Linked DNA regions of Homo sapiens: region 2 is linked to region 1. The links come from fine-mapping of genetic effects on plasma protein levels. A gene starts in region 1. The other region holds a variant in brackets. All regions are shown on one strand. Distances are from middle to middle.

What was found. PIP is the chance, under the fine-mapping model, that this variant and not a neighbour inherited with it causes the effect. The UK Biobank Pharma Proteomics Project read protein levels with antibody pairs (Olink). The fine-mapping took linkage between variants from a reference panel, not from the people measured, so its PIPs are less certain.
Region 2: its variant is fine-mapped to the plasma level of the IGFBP2 protein (UK Biobank, PIP above 0.99).

What each region holds. Positions count from the first base shown.
Region 1 is chr2:216,631,897-216,634,784 of GRCh38, reverse strand. It overlaps IGFBP2 (insulin like growth factor binding protein 2), which reads right to left and starts at 1,365. Exons shown (of 4, transcript NM_000597.3): 1 at 820-1,365. The coding sequence starts at 1,261.
Region 2 is chr2:216,614,141-216,617,042 of GRCh38, reverse strand. No RefSeq gene overlaps it. Among named protein-coding and RNA genes, the nearest start is that of LINC01280, 8.7 kb to the right of the region's middle. RefSeq lists a silencer at 1,543-1,837. The variant C/T (reference allele first, on the strand shown) is at 1,342.

The sequences.
Region 1 (2,888 bases):
CTCAATTTAAGATAGGGGCGGGGGTGGGGGGTGGCAACGCATCTCTCCTGCCTTTCGATCTGGGGCCCAGATGCGAAACCGCACAGCCTGGCTGCCCCCGTCCAGGGAATGCAGCCGGCGATCGGGCTTAAGTTACATTGATTCAGCTGCTAGGAGACCCCTCGCCTACCAAATGCCTCCCTTTTATTTTTCCATTCAACGTGGTAGCAAGAGCCCTGCTCGTTCCCTATGGAGAAATAGTAGTGGTGGTTTTCATTTTTCTCCTAAGCGACTCATCCTACAAAGTACCAAGTCCTTTCTTTCCAACTCACAACCCCAGTAGAAGGAAGGGCCCCTTGGGACGCCGGTGCCTCCTCCTAGCTCCCTCTCCTCTTCCAAGGTTCCTGGTGTCACTGGCACCCCGCAGCCTCCGCCTCCCAGCAGCGATCCCACCAGGACCCTTGGGTCCTCAAGCAGTGCCCCAAATAAGATTCGAGTTCCTACTCCCATGGATCTGACCACCGGCCCCCTTCTCAGCAAATCCCTCCTCCAGAATAGAAGTCTGGGTCCGTTCCACGCGGGTAAAACTATGGCAGCAGGGATGCCTTTCCTCTCCCCATTCATCCCCACCAAATGAGTCGCCAGGGCTCTTCCACTTGCTCTAACTCCAGTTCCCCTCCCCGGGCCTGACTTCCGCGTCCCGCTAGCAACAGTCCCCCTTGATTTGGTCCAAGGTCTCGGCTCTGCCGCCCCTAAAACCGTCCGTAAGGTCCAGCCGCCCGTCGGGCTTCTCCGCTGCCCTCCAAGTTTCTCCCAACTACTTGTTCCAGACCGCGTTACCTGCAACCTGCTCCGGGCTGGCGCCATACTCGGCGTCCCGGCGCTTCTCACAAGTGCCCTCGCCCATGACCAGCGCCTGCAGGGGCAGCTCGGAGCCCGGGTGGGGATAGCAGCGCAGCCCCTGGCCGCAGCGCGGGGTGTAGACGCCGCACGCCTCGCCCTCCAGCCGGGCGCACACCGAGCAGCAGCCGCAGCCCGGCTCCCGGACGAGCTCCGCGCATGGCATGCGGGCGCCTCCGGCCACTGCGGCCACCGCGGCGGGCGGCGCAACCGGCGGGGGCCCGCAGGCGGCCAGGCGCTCGGGTGTGCAGGGCGGGCAGCGGAACAGCACCTCCGCGCGCGCCCCGCCGCCGCCGCCACTCGCGCCCAGTAGCAGCAGCAGCAGCGGCAGCAGCGGCGGCGGCGGCAGCGGCAGCGCGGGGCAGCCCACTCTCGGCAGCATGCTGGCGGTCGGCAGCGCGGCGCGGCGGGCGAGCGAGCGAGCGGGCGGGCGGGCAGGTGGCACGGCCCTGCGAGCGCGGGAGCCGCCTCCTCCGCTTCTTCCTCCTCCCTCGCCGCCGCAGCCGGGTCCTAAAGGGCCGGCTTCTCCCCGCCCCCTGCCTTCTCCCCTCCCCCTTTTGGAGACCACTCCCTTCCCCCCCGACACTCCCTCGCGCCGGCAAGTGAGTGCGCGCACGCCCGCTCGCCCACCTCCGCGTTGGCTGCGGGCTCTGGGGGTTCCCTGCTCTTCCCGGGCCCCGTCCCTCCGCACTCTTCTGGCCTGACTATGACTCCTGAAGGAGAATACGGATAACTCGCGGGTTTGGGTAGGACCGGCGTGGCGGTGGAGAAGAGCGCGTGCTTTTGTCTGCTCTCAGTTCAGTTCGCGAGGACTTCGTTTGCGCGCTTCCCCTGTGGCCGGCACTGGGCTAACCGCTGGGGAACACAAAAGACATAAGGCTCCGTTTTGACCTTCAAGTAGATTTCAGTCGGCTCATACCAACTCCTTCCATCCTGGGGTATCACCCACCACTGACACGTGGCTTGGAACAATGACTTCTTGTTGGGTGGGTCCTGCGGAGTTTCAGACCCGTCTAGACCAAGCTAGACCCAAACAGCCCCGAATGGTCTTAGTGACTATTGCAGTTTTCCAAACCTGGGAGCTCGTGACTACAACCTATGAGAACCCTAAGTGCCCCGCAAAACCTGCCCCCTTCGTCTGCAGACCCCCTCCCTTCTCCGCCCGCTAAAATAATCCCTTAGCACCCTGGGCCCCCACCTACAAATCTCGAGGCACTTGTTGCAGGACAGATCCCAGAACACTCAGTTGCAGGGGTCTTGGAGAGGTCAGATCAGCTCTCCAGGTGTGACAGACCCGCTCTGGGGTAAGGCCATTTATGGCTGTCTTCAATAATGCAGATGGACAAGCATGACCTCCTTTCATTGTTCTGTTTGATTTACTGAGTCATCTACCCAAGCTGCCCCCAACCCCCATCATTCCAGGCTGGACTCAGCCATAATCAACCATCTCCTGGGGTGTGACCCTAACAAAGACCCCTGTCAGAGAGATTCCTTGGGTGACAGGTGGACCATTAAGCTGCCTCCACCGCAGGTTTCATCTCCCTATACCTCAGCGCCCCTCTTCCCCCCAGACCCCTCCACTCTGGCTCTTTCTGACTTCAAGGCTCAGAGCCTGTTTGATTCAGTTCAACAGCTAGTTAACCCAATGGCCACCTGGCTCTGAAGGTGACCTAGATGCCTCCAGGAAGGCAAGTACCTGGTCTTAAGACGCCAAGCTGGGAAGAGTTATCGGGAAAGACTTTGGTAAGATAAAAAATAAATAAATAAATGTTTATCAGAGGCTTTGAAGAAAAGAAATATTTTGGTAGAGAGGTGATGTGGTGGTTGAGGAAAGGGGAGTTTCTTGGGTGAGTCGGAGCTGAAATTGAAGCTTGTAATTCTACCAGAGGAAATGGGCGGTTAGCAAGGGCACAGGCAGAGGGACCACCTGAAGCAAAAACACAGAAATGGGGCCGGGCGCGGTGGCTCACACCTGTAATTCCAGCACTTTGGGAGGCCGAGGCAGGTGG
Region 2 (2,902 bases), 18 kb after region 1:
GAAGGCCTGATCCACTAAAGGCCTCCTTCTGTGACCCAGCCCTTTCTTTCTATAGAGCAGAGTCCAAGGTGACTCTGCTATAATATAATAATAATCAGTGGCCAAGGGACTCTAAGGCAGGGGTGTCCAATCTTTTGGCTTCCCTGGGCCACATTGGAAGAAGAATTGTCTTTAGCCACACATAAAATACACTAACACTAATGATAGCTGGTGAACTAAAAAAAAAAAAATTGCAAACAAATATCATAACGTTTTAAGAAAATTTACGAATTTATGTTGGACTGCATTCAAAGTCATCCTGGGCCGCAGGTTGGACAAGCTTGCTCTTGCTGTAAGGTATCATTGTCTGGGGGTTGGGCAGAAGGGAGGTTTTAGAGGGTCACAATGAAACCTCTACCACAATTGCACTAGACACACACACACACACCTACACACCCACCCACACACACAGGAACACACACTGCATGGCTAGGGTGCAGCATTGGGCATCTTGCCGATACTTTCAAAACTGTGCCTTCTGCCCAAGAGCCAGAATGCAGAATCAATAATTATTTCTATCCACATCTTTACAAAATAGTAAACAACCCTGAGGCTTAGCCAATCAATGACCTCAGTTCCTGCTCTTTGTCCAGAATCCTGCTCTCTGGACTTTCACTGTGTAAGGGGCATTTGAGTTGTAACCCAGAAGAACTCAGAGCTCGAAACAACCAGAACAAGCACAGCACACTTTAGAGGCACTTACTGGGGAGTCCTTATCCCAGCTCTGCCAGATAACCTACAATGTGACCTGTTTTGCAAGTCATCAAACTGTTAGGAGCCTCAGTTTTTGCATCTGCAAAATGGAGTAAGAACACCTAGTTCATGAGGCTTTTGTAAGGATTGTGTGGAATCGTTCTTGGAGGTTTCTGGGAGGATGTCTGACCCAAAGAAGGGATTCAGGTCAATGTTTGCCAAACCTGGAGTCGGATCTTTGCTGTGGACATTTGCCTCTTGGAGCAATCTCTTGACTTTGAGAACTCTGATCCACGATATGGGATGCCCTGTGTTCTTTAAGACCACCTGATGGCACCCTGAGTCTGGTCTCTCCTTCCCTGGGCATAGCAGTTCCAAGGGGACCTACCACGTGAGAGCATCACCCTTGCATGGAGACCTTCACCTTGCATTGTGCCATCTGTCACTGCCTGCCCATCCGACTTGATCCTGGCTGTCTGGAACAAGACCTTCTCTCTGGGGAAAATATTATTGTTTTTTTTGGCCACTTGTTTGATCCTCCAGAGTCAATATTTGCAGCGATAAGCACAGTGTGATGTAGCCAGTGGAGTTGTTTATAACTCTGCCCCT[C/T]TCCTATTGGGTTCTGGTTCCTTCTGGGCCACACTGTGAGGTGAGTGGGTGTGCATTTCAACAGCAGTGGGTCCTGGTACTCACCAAAACTGCTTTGGAAGAATATGGAAGAGGAGCTGGAGTCTGTTTGCTCCTGTCTCCTGAAGGTGTGCCCTCAGCCTACGCTGAATGCTAAGCAGGAATTTATGTGACCTTCCCAGGAAGCTGGCCTAGACGCCTTTCCCTCCTAAGCCTTTCTTGTAACACAAACCTCAGGGCTGCCCCAGTCTTCTCTACTAGATAGTGAGATCCCAGAGGAGTCTTTCTATAAAAATAAGATTTTCTGTTTCCACTTCACATAAAAATGCCTAGGGAGGTTTTCCACCCAGTTTGGAGGGCTTATTTCAAATGATTTGACTTAAAATACAGGCTATGAGGAGTGGGCAAAACTCCCTTTGAAGTGGCCCATAGGAGAGTACCCCAAGGGCTGGAGGGGTGGCCATTCTCTGGAGAGTGTGACTACTCGGGATACCATGAGAGGCCACAGTGACATCTGATTAGGAGAGACAGGCTGCACATATTAATCCATGGAGGACAGAGGCGACAAACATGGTTTCAACTGTGAGCTCCAAACCAAAAGTGATGAGGCCATGCATTCAACAATCGTAATTGAGCTGCTTCTCATATGGGCAACTCTATATGCCTCTAAGAGAGTAGAAGCAAGGATGGATATTTTTTCTTTTCTCTCTTTTTTGTTTTTTTGAGACAGAGTCTCACTCTGTCACCCAGGCTGGAGTGCAGTGGGGCGATCTCGGCTCACTGCAAGCTCCGCCTCCCAGGTTCACGCCATTCTCCTGCCTCAGCCTCCCGAGTAGTTGGGACTACAGGCGTGCAGCACCACGCCCGGCTAATTTTTTTTTGTATTTTTAGTAGAGACGGGATTTCACTGTGTTAGCCAGGATGGTCTTGATCTCCTGACTTCCTGATCCGCCCACCTCGACCTCCCAAAGTGCTGGGATTACAGGCGTGAGCCACCGCACCTGGCCAAGGGTGGATTTTTTAAACCATGGGTAATGGTTTTCTGGAGAAATACAGGCAGCCTGGCTAGCTAGTAATAATAATAATAATAATAATAGTAATAGCAACAACAAGAGAGGAAGTGGAGGAGGAATAGGAAGGAGGAGAAAGAAGAAGGAGGAACGGAACAGTGGCATGGCTGGGTAGTCCACTATGTGCCAGCCCCTTAGCAAAGTGATATCCAAAAGTGATCTCATTTAATCTTCAAAAAACCCCTACAAATCAGCTCTTATCATCTCCACTTTTCAGGTGAGGAAAGTGATGCTCTGAGAAGTTAAAGCTACTTGCCCAAGGTCATGCAGCTTACCAAAAGCAGATACTGATACGGTTTAGCTGTGTCCCCATTCAAATCTCAACTTCAATTGTATCTCCCAGAATTCCCACGTGTTGTGGGAGGAACTCAGGGGGAGGTAATTGAATCATAGGCCTCATCTTTCCCCTGCTATTCTCGTGATAGTGAATAAGTCTCACGAAATCTGAGGGGTTTATCAGGGGTTTCCGCTTT